Regions from separate parts of the Homo sapiens genome. Here region 1 is linked to region 2. The links come from fine-mapping of genetic effects on gene expression. Tissue or cell type: whole blood. Region 2 holds a variant in brackets; the other region holds the start of a gene. All regions are shown on one strand. Distances are from middle to middle.

Region 1 (8,000 bases), 23 kb after region 2:
CAGTCTAGCCGGGAACCGACAAGCTGGCTTTACTGTGACTGTCCAGGACCAGATCTGGCTCATCTGAACGTCACCACACATTGCAAGTCAGTGATCTTTCCAAGCATGAATCTGGCCAGGTCCCTTGATAGCTCAAGAACCTTCAAGGGCTCCCTGCTGCCCTCAGCATTTGATCCAAACTCCCCAGCCTTCCATTCTAGCCCTTCAGGACCTGACCACCCCACTCCCATTCTCAGTCTCAACCCCCACTGCTGCCCTCAACACCCACCCTCCTCAGACACATCAAAGTAAGCACCTGATCATCCTGCCTCCATGTCTTTCTATGGACATATAGACATGCTATTTCCTTTTTTAGGTAAAATTCTCCACATCCTATAAGTTCTAAAGTCAACCTCTTTAACTCTTGAGAACACAGTTCGTTAGCATGACAGGTGGCTAAGAAAGTTTCATAGCAGGGAAAATGGGTGGTGAGAAAATGAGGCAATGCATAACAGCATAAAAGATGAAATAACCCTGTTCTGTCCTCAAGTGCACCTGCCGCCCCGGGGGGTTCACAGCCTCCTCTGGGAAGTACGTTGGACCCCGTATCATGCTCTGTCTCGCCCACTCTTTTCCCTGTCAGCTTGTCCCGTCTCCTTGCCTGCCCCGGAGTCCAGCACCCTGTCAGCCAGAGAGGAAACTCTATCGATATTTGGAGAGCAAAGGAGCAGATGTAAGGAGGCTGTTTTCTTGAGACCTTGACCTTTGGATTCCATCGGCCAGGGATGGACAGGGTCTGCCACCGGCCTCCTGTCCTGTTGGACGTTTCCCCAGTGCTCTTCCATCCTGCTCGCCGCCACTTCACATGCTCCATGCTTTCTTTCACTTGGTCGGGGGGCGGTCTCACAGTTTGGGGGAGATGCTAAGCTTACCGTCCTAACCTAGAAACCCCCCGTATACACACACACTCTCCTCTCCCCCATTCCGAAGGCTGGAGCTGGGGATTTCCTGGGGACTTAACCGGCAGGACAGCCCTTTACGGGCTGAGGAGACAAGGAAGGAGGAAGGGAAGGAAGTGGTAGCCATGTGGCTCTGGGTTCTGGGAGCCAGAGGGGCCACCCTCCTACTGCTCCACGGCCCAGTCCTGTCTCCACAGACTGTGTCACCCTCAGGAGGACCCTGGTGTCTCCCAAATGTGCACAGGCAGCACCGCCCCCCAAATGTGCACAGGCAGCACCGTCCATCCCTGGCTTTGAAGGGGGACTTCTCCCACCCATCATCTGGTCTGATCCTCACAAACACCCCAGGAGACAGGCAGGACAGGCGCTGTCATCACTCTCACTAGACGGGGGAGGAAAACGAGGCTCAAAGAGGGGAAGTAGGGCGTAGACGATGGACTCTACAAGATATTTAGCCAGGCCATTTTACACCCAGAGAAACTGAGGCCCCCACAGGGAAGGGACCTGGCCCAGGGTCCCATAGTAAATGAGAAGCAGGCCCTCTGACCTCCACCTCACACCATCTCCCCATCCATTCGGCCAGCTCCTTATTAACCACTGATGGACTAACTTCCTAGTGTCCAGGGGGCAAACGGAACAAGAGCCTGAGGCAAGCATTGGGGTGCCTGCTGCAGCCCTCCTCCCACCCTGCTGTGGCTTCCCTTCCCCACCCTGCCCCCAAGTGGCAGTCCAAGTAGCCATACCCTCCTGTGACGTCAGCGCCCACCAGCCCTGTGTCCAGGGCCAGGGTCCAGGCTGGCCACAGCCCACCAGATTCCAACCAGCCTCTGCCAGGGCGATGGCTGGACAGATGTGGCCCTTCCATCTACCCCAGAGTAATTAAAAACACACCCAGGCCTCTTCCAACGAGAGAGGGGCCAATTTTCTTCCCCTCCAGCACCGCTGACTGCAACCTAAATAGCAATATTTATGCCAAGCTCCCCATAATACTGTAAACATCCCAATGTATAGCGGGCCAACGCATGAGTCATTTCCCCAAAGCCAGAGTTAATAAGTGGTACCTCAGCCATATTCCACAGAGCTCCCGCCAGCAGCCAGGCCCCAGGGCTGCCCTCCACACCCAGGGCCCGTGGCACCCTAGGTGCCCCAGTGGCCCCACTCCGGGAAACCGCAGTCAGCCGCCAAATCCCCCAGGAGCCGAAGGACAGCTGCCTCAGTGCCAGAAACTGTGGCTGCCATCCAGGGACACCCCCCACCCCCTGACTGCGGTCACTAAAGTGCTCATTACCGAAAGAGAAACTGAAGTTGTAGCACAGGGTCCCCCACGACGCCTTTCCCAGAGGCCGCAGCCCCCACGTCTGGTCTGATATGCGTTTTTTCTTAGGCTGCAAGAAGGGAAGGGGCGCCCCACAACCCTAAAGTGGCCTGAGAGGTGCACACAGACATCATCCCTAAGCCCAAGGGAGCAGAACCCTGGAAGGGCTCACGCAGTTTAGGGGCAACAAAACCCAGCTAAGTGAGTGCTGGTTTCAAAGAAAGACCACAGACCTGGGTTCTATTTTTGTCACCCAACGGCCCTGGGTGAGACATCGGACTTTTCAGAACCTCGGTTTCCCTATCTGTTCAAGAGAAGTAGGAATCATACCTACCTGTCTTCCCCGGAAGGTGTATTTTGAGGGATCCAACACGCTGGTGGGCGGGAAAGCACTTTGTAAAGCTTAAAGTACCTTGTCAACTGTGCAGCACGTTGTAAACCACAGAGAGCTGCGTATAGTGCGAAGTACTTCATAAACTGTAAAGTGGTTTGAAAACTGTAAAGTGCAGTACACGTGAGAACCATTATTCACGTTCGCTTCTTGCCCTGCAAGCTCGGCCATTCCTGGTGGACACACCCAGACCGCACTAACTTTCCCTCCAGAGCAAGCTGGCTCGGGAGACCTAGCAACTACCCTTGCCCCCCTGGGGGTCGAGTGGTACCAATACACGAGGCCACGGGGAGAGGGCCCGCGACCCTGGCCAAGGCCAACACATGGCAAGAGCATCTGGTCCGGCCCCGGCGGCAGCTGGAGAGTTCCCGGGGCTCCAGCCGCCACGCTGAGCGCCGCGGCCGCGGGGCGGTGGCCGGCGGGGGTGCCCGGAGACCTTGCGCGGCGGAGAGATGCCCACAGACCCATCCCCCGCGCAGTCCTCTCGGGGAGGGGACCCCATTGTACGCCGCGGGCGATGGGCAGGCACCGACGCGGGGGCTGGCGCGCTCCCTTCCACTCTGCCAGTCCCTGCTCTCCGGGGCGCCGGGCCCCATCTCGGGGGCGCGGGCCGGGAGCCCCCACCCCGGCCGGCCGCGGTGCCTCCCTCCCTCTGCTCCCTGCCAAACTTTCCAGCCCCGACCGAGCGCCGGCGCCCCCCCCGCCCCCCGCCACGGCCGGGCCCGCGCCCCTCCACCCTGTGCGGAGCAAGACCAGGCCGGCGCGAGGCGGCTGCCCGAGCCGGGGGCGGCGAGCGCGCGTGGGCAGCCCCCAGCCCTGGGCGGCGCTCGCCGGGCTGGCTACAAAGCCTCGGCAAGATGGTCCCTTCGCCTCCTCCTGGCACAGTCAATCAGCGCCCGCCGCTCCCCGGGCGCCCGCGGGGCCCGCTCCTCCCGGCGCGGCCGGACACACCTCCCCGCGGCCACCTGCGCCCGGCGCCGGCCCCCGGGCAAACTTTGCGGGCCGCGGAGCGGAGGTGGGCGCCGGCGGCCGCCCGTGCCCGGCCGCTCCCCGCCCCCATCGCCCGCCCGCCCGCCCGCTCGCTCACCTTCCACGGCGGCGAGCAGCGGCAGCAGCAGCAGCGCGGCCCCCAGCCTCCGCAGAGCCATGGCTGCGCTTCCCGGGGCCTCGGGCCGCGGCGCCGCGGGGCCCGGACGGCCCGGGCGGGAGCGCGCGCCCCGGGCTCGGGGGGCCAGGGGGGGCGGCAAGGCGCGGCGCACACACAGCCGCCGCCACCGCGCAGCCAGCAGAATGAGCCATCCAGCCCGGGCAGAACGGGGACCCGGGCTCCGCCAGCGCTGGGCACGGCCCACCTGAGCCGCGGGCGCGGGGGGAGCCTCGCCAGGCCACCGCCCCCCGCGCGCGTCCCGGCCCCCGGCGGCCGCGCGCCGCCGCGAGCCCGGGTCCCCACACCGCGCCCGTAGGGTCACCCGGGGGCAGCGCGGGCGCTGGAGCGCGGCGACCCCGCGTGCCCGGGCCACTGAGACCCCGGGCTCCCCCCGCGCAGCAGTGGTCTCTCCCGGCGCTGTGGCTCCTCCAGATAAAGCAGCGATTTCAGCCCAAATGTTTCTCAATTTTTATTGAATGCTGCAAAGCCGGAGAGCGTCTGGCGCGGCTGACAGGGGCAGGGAGAGCGGACGGAGGGGAGGGCGGGGGAAGGGGCTTCCCAAAGCGGGGGCCGGCACTACCTGTCAGGGCAGGGAGTCCCACCCCCTCGCCTCAGCCCTGCCACCCGGGTCCCTGCGGCTTCGAAAGGGACCGAACTGCAATGAATGGAAAAAAAAAAAAAAGGGTGTGTGTGGGGGGGTGGCATCTGGGAACAAAACAGGCGGCTTTCCCAGGCACCGGGGCTGGGCCGGGGCCTCCGAGTGGGAGACTGGGCCTTGGCGCTACCCGAGGGCCTGGGGTGGGGCTGGGGGGAGGGTGGTCACTCGGCACTGGTGGGCTGGGCCCTTGCAGGCAGACCCCAGGCCTCCCCTCCCTGCCCCGTTGTTCTGAGCTGGCCCGCGAGCCCCTCACTGCAGACTCGTCTATGTCTGTATTAGATTTCTCCTTCTCTGTTGATCTTGCTCCCAGTGCAGTTTGGGGATGGGGTGAAGGAAGTCCATGGGTGAATCTGGGGAAAGCCCCAGCCACCCCCACGCTGTGGAATGGACCTGTCTGTGCAGCCGTGGTTTTGTGCATGGCCGTCCCTTCAGGGAGAACACAACCCTAGCCCCAACCCTGTGGGCCCTGCCCTGCTCTGACAGCCTTCATCACCATCATCATTAACAGACTTTACTGAAGTCTGGATGGTGGGCGGCTGCAGGGGGCCTGCGGCAATCACCCAGGCTGAACCCCTGGCAGTTGGGAGCCCACTCCTGACTGAGGAGACTTCATCAGGAGCTCGGAACTCTGTGGAGTGAGTGGAGGAGCCCAGTGCAGGAGCAGGTGGTTTAAGTCGAAGGCAGTTTAAGTCTATGCTACCCACATCTCCTGTGTCCCTTTGTCCCACATACTATCAAAATGTCCCAGCAATCCCTCCCCTTCAGTCCATACCAAGAAAATGGGGTACCACAGGCTTTGGGAATCCATCTAAGGTTTGGAAAGTTGGGTCGTCTCTTGAAGCTCCAAGAGTCCAGTTGAAATGGGTGTCATCCTGGAAGGCCACCAGGAGGAGGCAGCCTGGGAGGGAGACAGAACAGGAGTGAGCAGGGAGAGAAGAGAAACAGGAGATTTCCCCCTATTAAGCCTACAGACCCCTCACCAGGGTCAAGAGCCAGTGGGGTGGGGCTGGCAGAGCCACTACCGTTCCTATTTGAGTGAGCAGGGAGAGAGGAGAAACGAAGATTCCCCCTTTTAAGTCTACAGACCCCTCACCAGGGTCAAGATCCACTGGGGTGGGGCTAGCCTTTATTTTCAGTTCTTGCCTGTCAGACCTTCCAGGAGACCCAGGGTTTGAGGGACCCCAAGCTTGGCCCATCTTGAGGCAATCCTCCCTCTCCTGGACAGAGCAGCTCTAAGCTCTGGCCCCCTCCAGTGCATCCAGGTGCTAGACACTTCCAAATTCAAGAAGTCATTATTGAGCACCTATTATGTACTGTGCAGATTCAGCTTTTTTGCTTTGTTTCTATTTCCTGGGACCCTTGACTCCACCTACCCAGGGCCAGTGGTTACTTCCTTTTTGTCTCAAAATAGGAAGACCAGTGACTCTGCTTTATTGAGGACATGGTACCAGGCACTAGGCTGGGCTTTGTTTATTTCTTGTCCCCCTTAATCTTTCCTACTCTGTGCACCAGGTGCTGATCTTTTCACATGATGAAACTGAGGACCAGATAAGTAATTTGTCCAAAGTCACATGGCAAATTGGGCTAGGATTCAACCCCATGTCCGTCCGACCCCAGTGCTGACCTCCTTGTACCTTTCACAGAAGCACAGAGCTCAGGGCTCTTCCCACAGGCTATTTCACAGATAAGGAAACTGAGGCCTAAAAAGGAAAGTGACTCACCCAACGTTATCTGATGAAATAGACATCTATCCAGGGCCTTTACCTGGCAAAAATAGAAAATTACTGATCATAATTAAGTTCCCCTTCTCTCACATCCTCTTCTCTCTAAACAGTATTTTATTCCCCATTTGGGGTGGCTGGGTTCTGCAGTCTGGCCAGGCTCTCCTCCCTGATTTCTTGGCAACCGCCTTTAGCTGTGCTTTTGTCCCAGCTGTGCACTCCACCTGGTTGCCTTCTTGGCTCTAAAGACTTGGATTCAGCCTCACCCCAGCCCCCACCAAGAGCTTAATTGACATTCGCCTCACCCCTCTCTGACTGACCTATTTGCCTATTATCTGTTCCCTGAAAGATAATCAGCCCCACATGGTCCATTGCTGGTTTCTCTGATGGATTGTTTCTGATTTGCACGTTATCTCTACAACTCCAGCCGACTGTGAGCTCCATGAGGGCAGTGCCTGGATGCAAAACTATACTGTACACTGCCAGGGCAGGAGGCCCCAGGGAGCATCTGACCCAATCCCCTCCTCAGCAGAGGAGGAGGCGGTTTAAGCTTCATTTGTCTAATGACAACAGCTACTCGAATTTGCAATCACGCTTTAACAGTTTACAAAGCAGCGTTCACACCCATCAACTCGACTCATGCTAATTCAACCAGCCTATCCTGCGAGCCAGCCCGGCAGCCAGGGAACGCCATTTTTCAGACGGGGAAATTGGGGCCCAAAGAGGGGCCACTTGCCCAAAGACATGTGGAAGGTTTGGGGTTTTTTGTTTGTTTTTGGTGCAGCTGGAGTGAGGCTTCAGTGACCTGTCTTGTCTAGGTCTCTTTCAATCAGAGTTGATTGACAAACATTAGTTGGGCACCTCCTGCATACCAGGCACTGAGGAGGCAGGGACGCAGCTGTGGACCTGCCAGACAAGGCCCTGCTCTCTGGGAGCCTATATTCTGCTGCAGAGAGACCTATATAGGGACAAGCTAATAACGATAATGGTAAGTGCGAGAAAGATAATGACCAGGGTGATGGGGCAGTGATTGACGGAGGGCAGGGGGCTGCTCTGGCCAGGGGAATCAGGGAAGGCCTCTTAGGCAACATGGCAGCTAAAAGCTGGACAGCGAGGAGTCTACCATGCCAACATGTGGGAAGAGAGCTCCAGGTGGAAGAAACTGCAGAGGCAAAGGCCCTGAGGTGGGAACACACTGGGTACCCTCTGGGAATAGGAGCTGAAGTACGGCAATCAACTGGAGCGTGGAGGAGGTTACATCAGGGAGGGAGAATATGGATTGTAGTTTAACCTCAATGGGGGAGTCATGGAGGATTATAAGTTGAGACTGGATAGATTGGAGGTAGAGGAAATAGCATGAACTTGGCTGAGCAGGGCCTGGGGGACCCCATGTGTTAACCCATGCCACCATCCTCCCGGTCTGTGGGGCTGGGCTGGCCTCTAGAGCCCCTAGATGGAGACACCAGGGGCTCTCTTAACTTGCTTCCCTTAACTTGACTCCCTTAACTCCCTAGCCCTCCCTTAACTTACTGTGTGACCTTGGGCAGGGTACTCACCGTCTCTGGGCCCCACTTGCCACAAATGCCAAATGAGGGCATTGGCCAAGGTGGTTTCTCTGAGGCCACTTTCAGCCCTCTCTTTGTCGTGGATTCAGTGGGGGCAACAGGACCTTGGTGAGGATCTCAGCCATACCAGAGGATGCCAATGAGCTCTAGGCTCCCTTTGCTTTCCCTGAGGCTCCTTCTTCCTGAGGGGAAAGGTAGTGGGGCTCTTGAAGGGGGGAAACATGTTACACTGAGTGGCAGAGCCCAGAGAAAACATAGAATAGAC
Region 2 (8,000 bases):
AAACTAAGACAAGGATCCCAAGTGAACAAAGCCATCTGTGCTTCTGTATAAATCATCCCCAAAGAGGGGGTTGGGCCAGGTAGCCTCTAAGAATCCATCCAGCCCCTAAGTGGAGAATTCTCAACTCTGCGATAAGTTAGTATTTTTTTTATCTTTAAATGGTTTGACCAGGTCTTGCCTCAAGGTAGAGCATGAACTCCAAGACCTCTGCGAGGCTAGGTTGATGTAAGAGCTGCCTTGTTCTGGCCTGAGACCCAGATCCAGTCTCATTCCAGGTTCTACCTAGTTTCAGAGGCATCTGAACAGCCTGTGCATCATGATAATTTCCTCCTACTTCCAAGGTCTTGTGGGAGTGTCATGCTGAGTTGTAAAAGCCTCTAGGATAGAGGGGGAAGTTATTTTCATGGGCAGACAATGTATTCATTCATTCTCTCATTCATAAAACATCAACCCAAGAGCCTGTTGGTAACAGACTCTGTGCTAGGCACTGGAGGCCCAACGATGAATAAGACAAGAAAGTCTCTACACTCCAGTTTAATGGGGGAGGGTGATGTAGACAAAATTAGCCATACCTTGGTGTTATAAGAATTGTTAATCAAGAGCTGAGGGTAAGTACAAAGAAGGATATACCAAGGAGGGGACATTTGAGTTGGGCCTTGAAGGATGAGTAGGAGTTCACTAGGCAGAAGCAAGAAGGGCATTCATTCTAGGCAGCAGCTGGGGCCTGAACAAAGATCTGGGGGCATGGGAGTTTATAACATGTATGTATGAAACCTATAGTTTATGGATGAGAATGACATCCACCTAGAGTTTGTGGGATGACAAGGACAGGCAGAGAAGGCCTCAGGGGCCAGGTCAACGAGCAGCTGTTTGACCTTGATTTTTTTAGATAAGGAGCCCAAGGTCTGAGCAGGAGGGTAATGTGGTCTCAGCTGCAGTTTAGAAGACTCAGTGGTGATGCTTTGTGGGGTTCAGAAGTCACTGAGATGGTCCAGGTGGGGCAGGGGGTAGACTTGAGGTCAGGTGGTAGCTGTAGGAACAGAAAGGCAGGCAGTAGCTGAATGGCCAGGGTGAGAGGGAGGCACAGCTAAAAAGGGCCGTGCTAGCTCTGGCCCTGGTGGTCTCTCCTGAGAACCACAAGGCAGCCAGATTAGAAACGGAAGCACTGGATGACTTGCCCAAGATTCCTCGTCACGCCGATGGCTGGATTCGCAGACACCTGGAGGCCTGGGGGAGTCCCAGGTTCTCCACTGTGTCTTCCCTTCTGACTCCACCCAGAGAGCCATGGCCAAGGTGGCGGCTGATCCGAGCCAATCGGTCTCCCCCAGTCTCCCCTCCTCCCCAGGTCTGACAGGGAGGGGGCCGGCTGAGTCCTGTGTCTCCATTGGCCCAAAGCTCCATTATCCTCCTAGGCAGGGTGACCCCCTGCGGCCGCCCCACAGTGCGCTGGGAAAAAAAGGCTCCTCTCTGACAAGAAAGCCCCATTGCAGGCTGGGCCCGGGGTCTGGGCAGCGCCTTTATCCACAGTGACCCTGCCAGAGTGTCAGCGGCGCAAACATGCCGCGCTGCGGAGGCTGCCCCCACCCTCAAAGGGCCTCGTGCTGAAGCTGTGAAGGGGCCCCCTCCAGGGCCTCTGGGAACCAGACCGCGGCCTGCAGGCCCCACCGAGGCTCCCAGGCTCCTTCCCACCCCCAGGGAACCATGCTTTGGCCAACACAGTGACTGAGGCGGGTCTGTGGGGTGGGGGCTGCTAAACAGAGCCTCGGCTCATGCATTGGGAAGGGGGGCCCCATGGAACTCTTTGTCCAGCCTCCAGAATTATTTGGGAGGAAAGTTGAAGGGGAGAGGCTTTTACGTCTCTGGGCCCAGCACCAGGCCTCATTCCCCACACCAACCAGGCAAGAGGGGCCGCCTTGTCCCCAAACGTTCCCCCATACCAGCCTTATCACTCCTCGCCCAATCCCCTTTCAGGTACAGTCTTGCCAAAGAGGAAAGGGAGGTCTCCTGAGCAGCCTCCTGTAGACCCCCGTGTGTACGATGAGCTCTCTTCCACAGCCCCCCGACTCTGCTTATGACAGCAACAACGATGACCACTACGATCATCTTTATTGAGCACTACCTTTGGGCCAGGGACAGGGCCACATGTCTCTTAGTGCTATTTATCATCCTCATTTTACTAATGGGGAACTGAGGCTCAGAGAGGGAAAAGAGCCTATCGAAAGTCACAGAGCGTGTAGGTGTAAGCCAGGATTTGAACCCAGGTCCCTCAGAGCCCACACTCTTATCCACTGTACAAGATACCTTAGGCTGCTCCGGTCCTGAGGGGTGCACAGGCAGGGGCTCTGCCCTAAGTCTAGTGACCCTACTGACCTCCCAGCCCTCTCCCTCAGTCCTGCTCTCTGGGCCGACTCACTGCCAAGGGCGTCCCAAGTGCCCTATAGGAATCATTAGGCTGTCCCAGGGTGGGAAGAGGATTTCAAGGAAGGCAAATTCCCATGAGTTAAGCCAAATGAGTCAAGCTTGAATTGCAGACTTTCCCATCATGTAGAGCTGAGACAGGCTCTACCCAGGGCCCTCAAATCAGACCCCTGGGAAGTGGGAGAAGGAGGCTCCCTGCTGGGAGTTCAGAGGTTGCTAGAAACCCTGTCCTCAGTAGCTGTTCCTGCTCTCAGGCCTGGGGTAAGCCAGCAGTCTTTTCCAAAGGCAGAAAGTATGGACTGTAAACTTCCTTAGAGGCCCTGGTTCTACTTCTGCTTCTTCTTCTTCTTCTTTTTTTTTTTTTGATACCGGGTCTCACTCTGTTGTTTAGGCTGCAGTGCAGTGGCATGACCATGACTCACTACAGCCTTGACCTCCTGGGCTCAAGCGATCCTCCCACCTCAGCCTCCCAAGTAGCTGGGACTATAGGCACATGCCACCATGCCTGACTAATTAAAAAAAAATTTAGTAGAGATGGGGTCACACTGTGTTGCCCAAGCTGGTCTCGAACTCCTGGCCTCAAGCAATCCTCCTGCCTCACCCTCCTGCCTCACCCTCCCAAAGTGTGCTGGGATTATAGGAGTGAGCCACCGTACCCAGCAAAGGTCCTTGTTCTTAACAGCAGCCTCAGGAAGATGCTCCCACACCATGCCCCACAGGCCACAGGAGTCGGTAGAGCAGGTT[C/T]ATAGCCCTGCTGTGCAGCCTTAGTCAGTGTCACCCTCCCTTGAGCCTCAGTCTCCTACCCTGCAGGGGTGTTCTGAGATAATGTATGTAAACCATCAAACACCCTGCCCAGCACAAAGCAGAGGCTCAATAAAACAAAGTTGTATTCATTATCATCAGTACCATGGAGCAACACAACAGAGGCTTGTAATCTGTAAGTCCCCTGAATTTTTTCATAAAAGTATCTGTGTGTCTCCAACTTTCTAGGAGGGGGCAGTTCATAGCCTGTGGCAGCTTCTCAAGGATCTTCAGGACCCCAAAGAAATTAAGAACCACAGCAAAATAATACTGACATTCAGGCCGGGAGTGGTAGCTCATGCCTGTAAATCCCAGTGCTTTGGGAGGCTGAGGCAGGCAGATGCCTGAGGTCAGGAGTTAGAGACCAGCCTGGCCAACATGGTGAAACCCCATCTCTACTAAAAATACAAAAATTAGTCGGGCGCAGTGGTGCACACCTGTAATCCCAGCTATTCGGGAGGCTGAGGCACAAGAATCGCTTGAACCCAGGAGGCAGAGGTTGCAGTGAGCAGAGATTGCGCCACTGCACTTCAGCTTGGGCAATAGAGCGAAACTCAGTCTCAAAAAAAAAAAAAAAAAGAATATTGACATTCTGGTGGTACTTTATTGAGTGTATATATCTCTGGGCTTTGGTTTCTCTGCATGAAGACTGGGGAGCCCTACCCTAACTGTCTCACAAGGATGTTGTGAAGCTCAGGTGAGACTGTGGAGGGGAAAGGATGCTGTGAACCACACTGGGCTGTGCATGGGCTGTGCCGGGGGGTAAGATTTATCCTGCTCCTGCTAAAGAGGCAGCCAGGACCAGCTGCCTGCATGCAGGCTGGGCCACAGAGGCAGCTGCTCCAAAGCCCCCTCACAGTGAGGCCTGATAGAGACATGAGCCCCCTGCCCAAGCCCAGGCTGGCCCTGGGTGGGAGGCCCAGGGCAGAGCTCTGTCCTTGACTGAGAAGCTCCTGACAGGGCCACTCCTGCGGCCTCTGGGCTGGGGTTTTGTTTTTGGGGATCAGGAGGCCAAGAATCCAGTCCCAGGTTCAACTTCTAGCTCTGTCCCCACCAAATCACACCAGGCCAAGAATCCAGTCCCAGGTTCAACTTCTAGCTCCGTCCCCACCAAATCATACCAGGTCAAGAATCCAGTCCCGGGTTCAACTTCTAGCTCTGTCCCCACCAAATCATACCAGGCCAAGAATCCAGTCCCGGGTTCAACTTCTAGCTCTGTCCCCACCAAATCATACCAGCCTGATGTAGTAGCGTGTCATGAGCATGGGCTTTGGACTTAGAGAATCGCGGGTTCAAATCCCATTTCCGCCCCTTACTGGCTATGTGGCCTTGGGCAATTTACTGAACCTCTCAGAGATTCAGTTTTCCTCTAAAACAAAAATAATAATAATCCTGCCTCACAGTGGTGGATTCAGCATGGCAACATGGCACATAATAAGGCCATGGTATATGCTGATTTCCACCGTGCAAAACTACTCCGTAAAATCAATCCTTTAAAATGACTGTTAACATGAATGTTAAAATTGTATAACGCTAATATTTTCATCATTCATATCATCACTCATCACTGTGTGACTTTGCACAGGTCCTTATCCTCTTTGGGTCTTGGTTTCCCCATCTGAAAATAAAGAGGCTGGTTAGAAAGGCAGCCTGGGCCAGCCACAGTGGTTCACGCCTGCAATCCCAGCACTTTGGAAGGCTGAGGTGGGCAAATCACCTGAGGTCAGAAGTTTGAGACCAGCCTGGCCAACACGGTGAAACCCCGTCTCTACTAAAAATACAAAAATCAGCCAGGCGTGGTGGCAGGCACCTGTAATCCCAGCTACTCAGGAGGCTGAGGCAGGAGAATCGCTTGAACTGGGGAGGCAGAGGTTGCAGTGAGCCAAGACTACGCCATTGCATTCCAGTCTGGGCGACAAGAGCGAAACTCCAAAAAAAAAGAAAGAAAGAAAGAAAGAAAGGCAGCCTAGGAGGGGGAACATACAGAGAGTCTGGACAGTCCTGGATTAAAACTCAGGAAAAAATCCACTTGGGCAAATCCTTTCATCTCTTTGAGCCTCAATTTCTTCATCTGTGTTATGCGTCTCATTCTTCATCTGTATTCAACAGACACTAGCTGATTTTTTGTGTGTGATGTGCCAGGTCTGGACTAGATGCTGCTGGTAAAAAGATGGTCCTATCTCTAAGTGATGGGTCATGGTGACACCCCCGCCCAGGAACGCAGGAGGAGCAATGGAGATATCAATGTGAGCGCGCCTTGTAAGCTGCAGAGCCGCACAGTGTCAGCTGCTGTTAATGGACCTTAGAGGGCCTCCAATTGCAAATCAGAAAATAAAGCGGGGCCGGGGGGCAGTCCCTAAATATTTACCTGCTAGGCAAAAATAAGAACCCCTTCAGCAGAGGCACAAAAGGCAGCTTTAAAAATCTAGACATTCGTGTGCGTGTGTATATCTGTGTGCACACGCGCACTGAGGGTGTGGAATGAAATGAGGTCATATGGAAATGGACTATTTTTATTTCAACAAGGCATTTTAAAAATACTCTTAATTATATGAAGATGGGGTAAAGATTTTCTCAAAAATTAGAGAGAAGAGTTAGAGCCGCCCTCCGGCCCCCCACGCGCTTCCCCAAACCCTGCTGCCTCTGCCTCCAGGTTTCCACCCCCACCTTCTCTGGCCCCCTCACCTTTCCCAGGCCCCCGCAGCTCTTGGCTCCCACTCCTGGGAGCCAGTTGGCCCACACATCTGGGCAGAAGGGAGCCAGAATTCATAGAGCCCCACCCTCTAAGCCCTTTCCAAGTGGGTTCTTATGTCATCCTCACTCTGGGAGGCAGGCCCTCTAATTCCCACTGCACAGATAAGGGGAGCTCATCACCTCTGGAGCTCAGGAAGGTTGTGCTCCCAAGCTGAGGTCACACAGCCTGTAAATGGTCTGTATGGCCCAGAGCTGAATCTCCTCCGCTAGAGGGGGCTGCCTTCCAGGGCAGCTGCTGCTGAAGTTCTGCAAGTCCTGAGACCCAAGAGATCCTTCCAAAGACCAGGCAAATTCCTCTTGGGTGGGATGAAGACTGGGGCACAGGCCGCACAAAAGCATTCCGGCCCTGGCTTCTGTGCCCTGGCTTCTACACAGTGATGATTTTGTTGTTGTTGTTTTGTTTTGTTTGAGATGGAATCTTGCTCTGTTGCCCAGGCTGGGGTGCAGTGGCGTGATCTTGGCTCACTGCAACCTCCACTTCCCGGGTTCAAGCGATTCTCCTGCCTCAGCCTCCAGAGTAGCTGGGATTACAGATGCGCGCCACCACGCCTGGCTAATTTGTATAATTTTAGTAGAGATGGGGTTTGACAGGCTGTTGGCCAGGCTGGTCTTGAACTCCTGACCTCGTGATCTGCCTGCCTCGGCCTCCCAAAGTGCTGGGATTACAGGCATGAGCCACCGCGCCTAGCCGATGATGGTTATTTGTTGAGAACTTACTATGTCTCAGCCACCTACTAAGGTAAGGACTATTACCCTCTCCATTTGACAGATAAGGAAACTGAGGTTCCAAGAAGTGAAGCAACTTGTCCACAGTCACACCTAGTAAGAGCTGGTGCCAGGACATGAACCCAACTGGTGTGACTGCAGAGCCCCTCGGTGGTCCGCTAATCCCCCAGTGCAGCCCCCAGCTCAAAAGAGGGAAGGGGCCTTGTGCACAGTCGCTCAGCAAGTCCTGATGGGGGTGGATTTGGGCCCGGGCCAGGCTCTTCTCTGTCCCTCTGCCCTCCATTCCCCCCGCCAGAATGATCTAGCACATGCTAGAGTCACCAACCTGGCTGCCAGGAGATCGCATTGTCAATACATTATCAATTTACATTAGAAAGAAAGAGACATATGTTTCCATGCCAAAAATGCCAACAGAGCCTCCTGGGGTGAGTGGGGGCAGGCCAGAGGGAGAAGACATTTAAGGTCCATTTTCTCTCCGCCCCCTCTGGATCCCCCAAACTATGTGAGGCAGCCTGGGGAGCAAAACCAGGGCCACTTACTGACAACTCCCCACCACTGCCCGCTTGGTCCAGCCACCACCGTCTCGTGCCTGGACTCTGTGATGGTTCTTCCTGTCCCCTGCTCTGTCCCTCACTCTCTGGCCTCTTAAGACAGAGTGGTGCTTTCTGAACCCAGGTTAGATCCTGCCACCTCCTCAAAGCCCTGCACCGCTCCCATCTCACTCCAGGTAGAAGCCAAAGTCCTGCCATGGCTGGTCCCTCTGTGTCACCTGCTCCCATTCTCCCCTGGCCCTCCCGCTCCAGCCACGCTGGCTGCCTTGCACACCCCTGTCACAGGGCCTTTGCCCAGCTCTCCTCACTGCCTGAAACACCCTCCCCCAGATATCCCTGAACCCCCTCTCTTGCTTCCTTCTGGCCTCTGCTCAAACGTCACCTCCTCAGAAAGGCCTTCCTGATCCCTCCTCTCGCTGGCCCTCCCATCTCTGCAGCAGTTTTCTTCTTAGCACCATCCCTACTTAAGCTACTCACTAGATATCTGGCATCAGTCCTGTCCATTAGAATAAAACCTCCATAGGGCAGGACAATCCATGCTGCCCCCTGCAACTTGTCCACAGCCACATGGCTGGTAAGAGCTTGGGATGTCAAGACCCCCAAAGGCCAGGGATCCCTGACACCTCCCACCCAAGTGCCCACAAGAAGTGGGGGAAGGGCCACCTGGCTTGATATCCGTTGGATCTGAGTGCACGTCTGTCCCACTGACTAGCTGTGTGGCCTCATCAAGCCACCCCCGCCTCCGCCCCT

The links. PIP is the estimated chance that this variant, and not a neighbour inherited with it, causes the effect.
Region 1: EPHB2 starts here. The variant in region 2 is fine-mapped to the expression of EPHB2 in whole blood (TOPMed, PIP 0.98).

What each region holds. Positions count from the first base shown.
Region 1 is chr1:22,706,775-22,714,774 of GRCh38, reverse strand. It overlaps EPHB2 (EPH receptor B2), which reads right to left and starts at 3,936. Exons shown (of 16, transcript NM_017449.5): 1 at 3,732-3,936. The coding sequence starts at 3,792. RefSeq lists an enhancer at 2,643-2,742 and a silencer at 4,964-5,249.
Region 2 is chr1:22,730,221-22,738,220 of GRCh38, reverse strand. All of the region lies in intron 1 of EPHB2 (EPH receptor B2), which reads right to left. Among named protein-coding and RNA genes, the nearest start is that of MIR4684, 15 kb to the right of the region's middle. RefSeq lists an enhancer at 931-1,492. The variant C/T (reference allele first, on the strand shown) is at 3,163.